3 linked regions of the Homo sapiens genome follow. The protein of the gene in region 1 purifies or fractionates together with the protein of each later gene. This does not show direct contact. Each region holds a gene or a part of one and is shown on either strand. Other genes may lie near its edges.

The links.
Region 2: the proteins of CLTB (region 1) and AP2A1 purify together in Homo sapiens (affinity purification with mass spectrometry; 2 studies listed by BioGRID and IntAct, with this or other methods). This does not show direct contact.
Region 3: the proteins of CLTB (region 1) and SEC13 purify together in Homo sapiens (affinity purification with mass spectrometry; 2 studies listed by BioGRID and IntAct, with this or other methods). This does not show direct contact.

What each region holds. Positions count from the first base shown.
Region 1 is NC_000005.10:176,396,027-176,399,671, forward strand, and holds part of CLTB (clathrin light chain B), read right to left. Parts: intron 2,022-3,645; coding exon 1,904-2,021; intron 1,693-1,903; coding exon 1,581-1,692; intron 507-1,580; coding exon 453-506; intron 1-452. UniProt on the Homo sapiens protein: Clathrin is the major protein of the polyhedral coat of coated pits and vesicles.
Region 2 is NC_000019.10:49,801,458-49,805,102, reverse strand, and holds part of AP2A1 (AP-2 complex subunit alpha-1), read right to left. Parts: coding exon 3,482-3,645; intron 3,382-3,481; coding exon 3,214-3,381; intron 3,123-3,213; coding exon 2,962-3,122; intron 2,570-2,961; coding exon of another isoform or gene 2,504-2,569; intron 2,155-2,503; coding exon 2,098-2,154; intron 1,997-2,097; coding exon 1,914-1,996; intron 1,817-1,913; coding exon 1,727-1,816; intron 1-1,726.
Region 3 is NC_000003.12:10,318,896-10,322,640, forward strand, and holds the start of SEC13 (protein SEC13 homolog), read right to left. Parts: upstream 2,218-3,745; 5' UTR 2,158-2,217; coding exon 2,155-2,157; intron 2,147-2,154; exon of another isoform or gene 1,976-2,146; intron 1,770-1,975; exon of another isoform or gene 1,614-1,769; intron 422-1,613; exon of another isoform or gene 385-421; coding exon of another isoform or gene 244-384; intron 1-243. UniProt on the Homo sapiens protein: Functions as a component of the nuclear pore complex (NPC) and the COPII coat. At the endoplasmic reticulum, SEC13 is involved in the biogenesis of COPII-coated vesicles.

The sequences.
Region 1 (3,645 bases):
CGGGAGGCTGAGGCAGGAGAATCGCTTGAACCCAGGAGGTGGAGGTCGCAGTGAGCCGAGATCGCAGCACTGCACTCCATCCTGAGCAGCAAGAGCGAAACTCCATCTCAAAAAACAAAAAACCCTTCACCCCACACACCCACCAAGAGACATCACAGAGGGAGGGAGTTGGGGTGCTCTGCCATTTGCCCCTCCCACATGGGAATAAGTGGCAAGCACATTCCTTTCTCTGCCTTTATCCTGCAAGGCTCTGATTTAGCCAAGCAGCCTCCACTTCACTGGAGGGAGGGAGGTGGTTGCTGCCTGCACCCACCAGGGCATTTGCCTCCTGTTCTGACCATTGCTCCGAGCCCAGCCACACTCATTTATATCCCACAAGCAGGAAACTCAAGAAACTGTGGTGGCCATTCCCTCTCTAGCTCCCCCAACAGAGAAGCAAAACAGACACGTACACGTAGCCGATGATATCAGCATCTGGCTGCTGGTAGAATGCTTTGTCAGCGATCCTTGAGGGAAAGGTTGAGGGAAGGGGTTAGGTGGGGGAAGGCAGATGGCAAGACAGACAGGCAGGCAGAAGGTTAGAGAGAGAGAGAGAGACAGCATTAGTACCTCCAGTGGGAGAAATGTTAGGAAGCATAGTTCTGGAAGGCTCAGCAACGACCCACAGCCCCAAACAGGAGAATGGGGACCTTCACCCTGGCCCCAGCACCTTCTCTAAAATTCATCCCTGATCATGTTACTCCTGTTCAAACACCTTCAGTGGCTCCCCACTGCCCATGTCACTGCCCAACTCATCAGCCAAGGCCCTTACAGTGTGAGTCCACAGGTTCCTGCCTTCTCTCCCACCGCTCCCTGGCCCCCTGTTGCCTAATACATCACATTTTTTTCTTCGTACCCAGGTCTAGAATGCCCCCCTACCTCCTGCCCTTTTTTCCCTTTTTTCCTCCTAGTCATCTTCCAAAGCCCAAGTCCCAAGACACAGAGGTCTCTCCCTGACCTGTTTCCTTGCTTCCATGGCCTTCGTGCAGAGGGCCCTACTGTATTTGAGCTTAGTTGAACATGTGTGTTTTTCTCCTCTGCGCCCTTTGAGGACATAAGGCTGGGTCCTCCTTATCTCCATCTCCTCCGTGCCTACCCCAGAGCCTGGCATGCAGCAGTTCCCTAGACAGAAGGGTAGCTTCCCAGAACAGGCCTTTCCCTTCCTGGAAGACCTTGTACCGTGAAGGACAGAGCCTCAAAGGCAGGGAGCACTGGGCAGTGTTCAGTCATGTCCCCACAGCCCCTCTCATGTCCCCATAGCCCCTCTCATGTCCCCACAGCCCCTCTCATGTCCCCACAGCTCCCTCTCATGTCCCCACAGCTCCCTCTCATGTCCCCACAGCCCCTCTCATGTCCCCACAGCTCCCTCATGTCCCCACAGCCCGTCTCATGTCCCCACGGCCCCCTCATGTCCCCACAGCTCCCTCATGTCCCCACCCCTTCATGTCCCCATGGCCCCCTCATGTCCCCACGGCCCCCTCATGTCCCCACAGCCCCCCTCATGTCCCCATGGCCCCCTCATGTCCCTACAGCCCTCTCACCGGTTGTTGATCTTGTTCTTCTCTACTTGTTCACTCTGGCGCTGGTTCCACTCCTCCAGGTCCTTCTTGGCCTTCTCCCGCCATTCCTGTTCCGTGACCTTAGATGCAGCATCTAGGACCCCACAAGAGAATGAGTGGCTGCTTTCCAGCTGGGATGCACAGGCCCGGCCGCGCTCCTCCCCTGGCCCCTGCCAGGCAGCCACAGGGCCGCACCGGCCCAGTCCCACATTAAGGCATGCAGCATCCCATGCACTCCGAGGACTCCCCACACTCCACCCCACACACAGCCCACCCAGCCAACCCCGCCTCAGCCCCGCCCTCACCCAGCTCTTGCAGCCGTTTCCTCTGCTCCTCTCGCCACTTGCGGATGCTCTCAGGCTCCTGGGTCAGCCTGTCAGCCTGGGCAATGGCTGCGTAGCCATCAGCAGGACCGTTGGCCTCCTAGAACACAAACACGCAGCAGTCTATCCAGCCAGCACACCTGCCCCGCTGTCTCTGCTGCCCCTGCTGGGGACCCACTCATGTCTGGATAACTCAGCCTCAAACAACCTCATACCCACTGTCTCTGGTGACTACACCTATCTTTGCACTTGCTGTTCCCTCTGCCAGCAACACTCCGCCACCTGTGTGACTGCGGGCAAGTTACTCACCCTCTCTGTGCCTGATCATTGCCTCTGGCCCAGTTATAGGTTTTGATACCCCCAAAGCAGAAGACTCAAGAAAGCGTGTGCCAGCCACTTTCTTTGTCATAAAATGGGCTAAATAACAGTATGCACTCTGATGGGAGGACATAAGGATGAAATGAGTTAAAAATTATAAAGAATGTCGGGCGCAGTGGCTCACACCTGTAATCCCAACACTTTGGGAGGCCGAGGCGGCAAATCACCTGAGGTTGGGAGTTCAAGACCAGCCTGACCAACATGGAGAAATCCCGACTCTACTAAAAATACAAAAAATTAGCCAGGCGTGGTGGTGCATGCCTGTAATCCCAGCTACTCCGGAGGCTGAGGCAGGAGAATCACTTGAACCCGGGAGGCAGAGGTTGCAGTGAGCCGAGATCACACCATTGCACTCCAGCCTGGGCAACAAGAGCAAAACCCCGTCTCAAAAAATAAACAAATAAAAATAAAAAATAAAAATACTGCTTGGCACAGTGAGTCCCTTGTGTTACCGTCATTAAAATCACTCTCTATTGTGGTTGTATTAACTCCTAACACTTAGTCCAAAAAGACCTCAAGACCTCACTTTTTTTTTGAGATGGAGTGTCCCTCTGTTTCCCAGGCTGGAGTGCAATGGTGCAATGTTGGTTCACTGCAACCTCTGCCTCCCAGGTTCAAGCGATTTTCCTACCTCAGCCTCCTGAGTAGCTGGGATTACAGGCACACGTCACGACACCCGGCTAATTTTTTGTAGTTTTAGTAGAGACGGGGTTTCTCCATGTTGGTCAGGCTGATCTCGAACTCCCGACCTCAGGTGATCCACCGGCCTCGGCCTCCCCAAGTGCTGGGATTACAGGCTTGAGCCACCGTGACCAGCCCAAAAGGACCTTACTTTATAATGTGTTTGTCTGTCTCTGCCATCAGAATGTCATCTCTGTCCTTTTCACTGCTATGTCCCCAGAGCCCAGCACAGTGCCTGGCCCAGCAGATGCTCAGTAGATGTTTGTTGAGTAGAGAAGCATCCCTGAGATATGCAGCATGATCATAGCTCAGATCACACCATGGGAAAGAACTTGGACTCTGCAGCCAGGCTGTCTCGGTTCAGATGCCACCTCTGATACTATGAAATGTTTGTAAGGCCTGGGAGAAATTGCTTAACCTTGCCTGACTTTTGTTTTCTCATTTGAAAAATGGGGCTGGGCATGGTAGCTCATGCCTATAATCCCAGCACTTCGGGAGGCCAAGGCAGGAGGATCACTTGAGGCCAGGAGTTTAAGACCAGCCTGGGCAACACAGCAAGAGTCTGTCACTATTTTCAAAAAAGTTTTTTTAATTATGGAAAAAAAGGCCAGGCACGGTGGCTCACGCCTGTAATTCCAGCACTTTGGGAGGCCGAAGCGGGCAGA
Region 2 (3,645 bases), on another chromosome or scaffold:
CATGGCAAGACCCCATCTCTACAAAAAAATTAGCCAGGCATGGTGATGTGCACCTGTAGTCCCAGCTACTTGGGAGGCTGAGGCAGGAGGATGCCTTGAGCCCAGAAGTTCGAGGCTGCAGTGAGCAGTGTTCATGCCACTGCATTCCAGCTTGGGTGAGTGAGGCCCTGTCTCAACACAAGGACATGTGTAAAATGTCCTCAGGAGTTGATGAAATAATCCAGCCGGGTGTGGCGGCTCACGCCTGTAATCCAGCACTTTGGGAGGCCAAGGTGGGGAGGATCACTGAGCCCAGGAGTTTGAGACCAGCCTGGGCAACATAGCGAGGCCTCAACTCTATTTAAAAAAAGAAAAGAAAAGAATCCATCACAAGTACTTGTCTGTGTGCCCGGCACATGGTAAGTACACAAAGATGGTAGCAATTAGTGTTATCATCATCTGCATCCGTGTCAGTAGCCCACTGGGAAGGCCTGGGTCTCATGTTCTTTTGTCACTGCCTCCACTGAGCTGCCTGCACGAGCCTCTGGAAATTATGAAAGAAGGAATTTTTTTTTTTTTTTTTCCTGAGACGGAGTCTCGCTGTCGCCCAGGCTGGAGTGCAGCGGCGCAATCTCGGCTTACTGCAACTTCGCCTCCTGGGTTCACGCCACTCTCCTGCCTCAGCCTCCCGAGTAGCTGGGACTACAGGCGCCCACCACCACGCCCGGCTAATTTTTTGTATTTTTAGTAGAGAAGGGGTTTCACCATGTTAGCCAGAATGGTCTCGATCTCCTGACCTCGTGATCCAACCACCTTGGCCACTCAAAGTGCTAGGATTACAGGCGTGAGCCACCGTGCCCGACCGAAGAAGGAATTTTTTCTTTTCTTTTTCTTTTTTTTGAGACTGTCGCCCAGACTGGAGTGTAGTGGTACAATCTCGGCTCACCACAACCACCACCTCCCAGGCTCAAGCGATTCTCCTGTCTCAGCCTCCTGAGTAGCTGGGATTACAGTCGCGTGCCACTACCACCCAGCTGATTTTTGTATTTTTAGTGGAGATGGGGTTTCACCATGTTGGCCAGGCTGGTCTTGAACTCCTGACCTCAAATGATCCACTGGCCTCAGCCTGCCAGTGCTGGGATTACAGGTGTGAGCCCCCATGCCCGGCCAGAAGGAGTTTTCAGGTCGAGCTTTTCTAATTTCATGAATGTGGCAATGGAGGCCCAGAGAACGGGCAGGGGGGACTGATACCTCCAGCCGCCCTTCCAGGGTTTTCCAGACACTCTGATCTTCACAATAACCCTATGAGGAAGAGGAGGGTCTACATACACTTCACAGCGGGGACAGGAGAGCCCAGAGAGGCAAAGTGACTCAGCCCAGATCAGGCCTGATCAGCGTCTGGACCCGCAGGCCTGGCTCCTGAGTGCAGGCGGTGCTGGCATCATGACATGGAGCCCAGTGGAGGACGATGGCAGGACACGGAAGGTGCCAGACAGGGACAAAATGAGGCCTGGAGCAGGTGGAGTTCTGGAAGTAAAGCCTCCCACACACCACTTCACTGTCATCCCCTGTCCTGGGGGAAGGAATCCCACCCCCATCTTAACAGATGCAGACACTCAATCTCAGAGAACTAATTGCGTGCCCAAGAGAGGCTGAAGAGAAGTGTGGACCTGGGTCAGCCGGCTTCCCCACGGTGAGGAAGGCCGACGTGGAGAGGCAGGAGGCTGGGCCGGGCCTGAGAGGATATGAGTCTGGAGGTCTCCCGGGTGAACCACAGTGGGTGAGAAATTCTGGAACTGCACCGAGGTCTTGTTGCCATAGAAGAGATACATGCGGCCTGCAGTAGGTGGGGGAGGCAGAGCTCCATCTGAGTCCCTCTGACCCCTTCCCCAAGGTCTCCCTCCGACCCATTCCCACAGTCCCCCGGGACACACCCAGGTTCTGTCGGAACTCTGACTTGACTCCGATCTGCAGCAGCTGGTTCTCGAACAGGACCCCGTTGTTCTTACACACAAACCTGAGGGGGCAGGGGGCGCAAGATGACGGGGGTGCCTGTCTGCACCTGGCCTGGGCTCCGCACCTGTCCCGTTCCCCTCCCCCACCACTCCCAGGACTCACTTATTCAGCAACTCATCGGCTTCCGGAATGGGAGGGCCGATGTCCTCAGGACCTGGGCTGGAGGCATGGAGCAGAGTGAGATGGGAAGGAACTTGGTGGGGAGGGGCAAAGGCCCAGAGCGATTGAGTGCGAGAACAAGCCCTAAGGACAGAACCCCAGAACCACATATCCAGACCCCTCACAGAGCCTCGAGGAACCTCGCATCCATCCAGCAGTGGCCTCCAATGGGAATAGAACCCTGGCCCGTGCCCCCGCATCGGCAGACACCAAGTTTCCCTTTCCTCCAAGTCCCTGCCTCTGCTGCTCATCAGGAACCCGTTGACGAGGGCTCCCAGTCCCCTAACTCTCCCTGGGGACACCCGAGTCCGCCCCCCCGACCGACCTCCCACCCCAGGCCACCCCTTACTCAGCAGCTGGAGCTGGGTCAGCCAGCAAAGCCATGGGGCTCTCGGGGGCAGGCGGCTCCAGCTCGCTGAGCCATCCAATCCCAGAGCAGACAAGAGAAGACAGGCGTGGCAGGCAGCCAATTCCACATAGGCAGCGAGAGGGCAGAAGAGAGACAGAGAGGGAGGGACGGAAGAGGGAAGGAGAGAAGGAGAAAAGGAAGAGCAGGCTGAGAAACGGTGACAGGAAAGGAGACAACGAAGGGTGGCCAGGGTCGGCGGAGTCCAGAGTGGCAGAGGGAGGGCGTGAGCAGGGAGGCTGGGGCAGGGGAGGCAGCAGCCAGGGCTGGCGAAGGCATCAGGATGGAGAGAGGAGCGAGTCGGGGGCGGGGGAGGGGCTCAGGGAAAACGGGGACAGAGGCCGAGAAGGGACAGCCCTGGGGGTGGCCGCGAGAAGGGGCCCGGGCCCAGGGGGTGCTACCTGAGGAAGGCCTCCTCGGGGGTGGGCCCCAGGCTGGGCTGGGCGGCCGGGCCATCGAAGACGTCCACCAGAAGGTTCCCTGCTCCTGCAGAAGCCGGGGGTGCTGCCGGGGGAGGGGCTGCCCGCAGCCCCAGGAGGTCGGCGGAGGGCGAGGGCGTCGACTGTAGGAAGCGCAGGTCACGGTGAGGACAGGCGGCGCCCGGCAGGACCCAGCCCCAGGCACCCTGGCAGGGCCCACCCCAGGGGACTCACCACAGTGCTGGGGGTGGGCTCCATGCCCCCGTTGATGTCGTTGCTGCTGGGGTCCCTCCGGCCATCGTCCAGGGCGCTGCCGGCCCCTGGCCCCTTCTTGCGTTTCAGCTTGGCCAGGATGGACGACTCGCGCTCGGGGAAGGGCGGCATCTCCTCCAGCACCGTGGCCTGGCGCGGTCGGGGTGGGGAAGGTCAGTTCGGGTCAGGAGGAGGGGAGGGCGGGAAGGGGGTGTGCAAGAGGGGTGGGGTGGGGGGACAGGGCTCTGACCAGGACGTCGGTGCTGGCCACTGAGCTGAGGGTGAGGTACTCCACGGCTCGCTGCTGCAGCTCCACGTCAGCATTGCGCAGCTGGGAGCCGGCCCGCAGGACGCCCTGGATGGTGGCCTTGGTCTCGGGGAAGAGGTTGATGAACTTGATGTAGGTGGACAGCA
Region 3 (3,745 bases), on another chromosome or scaffold:
TCTCCCCACTAGAAGGTGAGCTCCTTGGAGCCATGGTCTGAGCCATCTGCAGTTTCAAATCCCCTCAAATCATCCAGCACAGTGCTTTGCAAATAGAAGGAACTCAGCGACTATTTGCTGAATGAATAAGTAAATGAACAAAAGCTGTTATTTTTTTTCTTTGCTCAACCACTCTTCTCTTAAATTCTTGGGATAGAAAAGAGGACTTAAAAGAAGTTTCAGTGTGGAACAGACATTTCTTACCATTTTCCCCATTTCATCTTTTCCAGCACAAGCCCTGTAGGTATAAAGTTTGACTTGTGATTTCAGAAAGGCAGACAGTGGAAGAGGATGGCTGCAAAGCAGTTCAAGAGGTACACACCAAGTAAGCACAGGTTCTCTCATCAGATTCTAGACTCTCTAAAAACCAGGTCCCCGAAGTCTGCAAAGGCAAGTAAGGACAATAAGGAGTTTCCTCCATGTGCCGAGCTGTATAGGTTACAAAGTGCACAGGAAGGCGGGGAGGGCAGGGTACCAAGGGCACAGTCAATCAGAGACCTGCGACAGACTAAGGAAATGAAGAAGCCCAGAGAAGAGAAAGCACTTGCCAAAGTCACAGAGCTAGTTCAAGGCAGACCTGGGAAAAGAGCCCCATCCCCTAACCTTCTAATGCTGAGTCCACAAAACTTCACTCCACCAGGCTGCCTGTCTAGAATGTAAAGCAGTTGTTACACTGAGTTCTGTAAAGCTGCGGTTAAGTAGGTTCACGAAGAAAGTTTACTGAGAGGTAGTTTCAACCAGGTTACCAAAGGACCTTAGAAATAATCAGCATTTAATTCTAACCACTCTCACCCACCAGTCAGGGTTGATGAACCACACTTCTGAATGAGAGAGAGAGAGAGAGAGAGAGAGAGAGAGAGAAGGCGGGGGGGGGGGGGGGGGAGGAAAGAGGGAGGGGGAGAGAAAAGGACGGAAGGAAGGAGGAAGGGCGGGAGAGAAAGGGAGAGGGAGAGGAAGGGGGGAGGAAGAGGGAGCGGGGAGAGAGAGAGAGAAGAGAGGGAGGGGGAGAGAGAGAAAGGGAGAGGGAGAGGAAGGGGGGAGGGAGAGGGAGTGGGGAGAGAGGGAGGGTGGGGAGAGAGAGAGAGAGAGAGAGAACTTCTTAGAGTACTTCTTCCCAGGGACCTGGTATTATCTGGTCCCTGTTAACACCTGCACTCAAAATAATTCACCTCTTTGAGATCAGATAATGAGTTAAAAATTCATTTAGGATGAGCTGAATGTCAGAGCATAAAAGCCTCAACTCTAACCTGCAGTGGAAGAGCCAGAGGTGAGTGATTTACACCTAACCCTCTGCAGAACAAGAACACAGTGTTCTGATTTCTAGGTTCCTGCAGGTTCCCTCAAACCTGCTGCTGAGACACACCCATGTTTCTAAAAGAATGCATGTACTAGATATTCCAGGCTCAGCCCAGATACTTCCATTCTTTAGTTCTCCTTCAGTCATTCATTCACTCAAGGAGTAAGTGTGGAGTGAATGTACACTGCAGATGCCACAGAGACTTAAAAAACCCTGAGCCCCTGCCTTCGGAGGGTCGTTCAGGCCATCTTTACGTTTCCCGAGGTGCCCATCCTACCTGGGGGCCCTACCCCGAGCAACAGTTCAATCATCTCTGCTGGGAGCTGCAGTAGGCGGCAGAAAGGAATGGTTAGGAGGGTTCAAATCTCGGCTCTACTACCACTTAAGCAGCTGTGCAAGAGGCTCCACGTCTCCGAACCTCAAGTGTCCTCATCTGTAAAGTGTTGAGAAGAATAGCACCTTCTTCACAAGGCTGTTAGCAGGCGGAGATTACGAACAATGCTGAGGGCTCGGTATACAGTAGCTCCTCTGCTGTTCCTCGTTTTGTTTTCAATTGTTGACCGAAAAGAAGGAAGGGAGACTGGCAGGAGACGCAGGAGCGGCGCGCCCCGCAAAGTCAGGGAGGTTCCTCGGCCTCACCTCTGGACTCCCCTCGGAATGGTCCGCAAGGACGGGGCCAGAGCCCCCCAAATCTCTAAGCGGTGGAGGGGAGCTGAACGGCTCCAGCTTGGGATTTGGGACTCAGGACGGCCGAGGAACCCGTGAAGGCCGCGACCGTGGCCTTCACCCTGCTAGGCCTCCTCAGTACCAACACTCACCATGATTGCGGCGGTGGCTGCTCCAGGTCTCGGACGTGGCAGCTCCCGGCGGCGCCTCGGAACAGCTCACTTCCGGCGCCGGGCCCGACGGGCCGTGGCGTAGGAGCCTCCGGGCAGCAACGCGCTCGGCTCGCACAGCAGTTCCGCGCCTTCCAGAGGGCGCGCCCCGCCCTCCCGTGGCCCAGCCCCTATCCTCCAGTGACGTGCGAGACCAGAGGGCTGGGGCTCTGGTTGCCGCAGTTACCCTGACCCGGAGGGCTTTGGAATCTGAAGCTCTGGTGGGTCTACTCTCCCGACCAAGTCTGCCCTTTTCCTGAGATCCATAAATGAAAGAAAGGATTAATATAACTATCGGCCGGGCGCGGTGGCTCATGCCTGTAATCCCAGAACTTTGGGAGGCTGAGCTGGGGGGTGGATCACCTGAGGTCAGGAGTTCGAGACCAGCCTGGCCAACATGGTGAAACCCCGTCTCTACCAAAAATACAAAAATTAGCCGGGCATAGTGGCGCGCGCCTGTAGTCCCAGCTACAGGCTGAGGCAGGAGAATCGCTGGAACCCGGGAGGTGGAGGTTACAGTGAGCCGTGACTGCACCATTGCACTCCAGCCTGGGCAACAGAGAGACACTCTTGTAAAAAAGAAAAAAATCTATCTATCTATCTATCTATCTATCTATCTATCTATCTATCTATCTATCATCTATCTATCTGCAGCTTCACCCGCCTCACTACGGCTCTGGGTGCGACTGGTCTTATGATGAATGTTGTAGGATGAGTGACATCTTAGGAGTAAGTAGACTGTCCTAGTGCTTCCTTGTTGTAGTCTCCCTCTCAGTACCCAAGGACTGGGACCAGGGCAGAGGAGGCCAGGGAATGCCCCTCGCCAGAGGCTGGGACCTCTGGCCCTGCCATCCCTAACCCCTATATAGGACTGCCCCTTCCAAACCGATCCCCTGGGGTCCTGAGTAAGTCCCATCAAGGAGACCCCCCTAGGCAATGAAGGATCTCAGCCAGGCTCCTGCAGCTAGAGCCCCAGACCTAATCCTCAGGGTCCCCAACCCCAGGTCTCTGGCTTCACAAGGTAGGGCAGCTGAAGGCTCCCCACAAGCGCAGTGAGAATGCCACACTGGAGGACAGAGCCTGGGCTCCCCGCCTCAGCCACATATGGTCTAGCCCTGGGCCCCTTGTGACATTAAGGAGGCAGATGAGCTGGGGGAGGCCTTGGCTCCCCTTGGGCAAGTCACAGTCCTTCAGTTTCCTCTGCTGAAACTGGGAGTAAGGACCCTAGCTGGAGATGGTCACTGCTTGAAGGAAGATGTTAAGGCTCAGAGAATGTGATAGACCCAAACTGTCAAGGAGCTTTGGAGGGGAGGCCAGGGGAGTAGGGTGTTAGAATTAAGGGCCAGGCCTCTGGGCAACTCTTCTACCCCACTGCAGCTTTCAAGATTTTTTATTGCCCTCTAGTGGAGAAATTGTTGCAGGGGTGTGAGGGGGTGGTGGTTAGGTTAGAGCAGGGAACAAAGGCAGGTTTCAGGGGATCTCTTGGATCTCCTGTTGTTTTTTTTGTTTTTTTTTTTTTGGAGATGGACTCTAG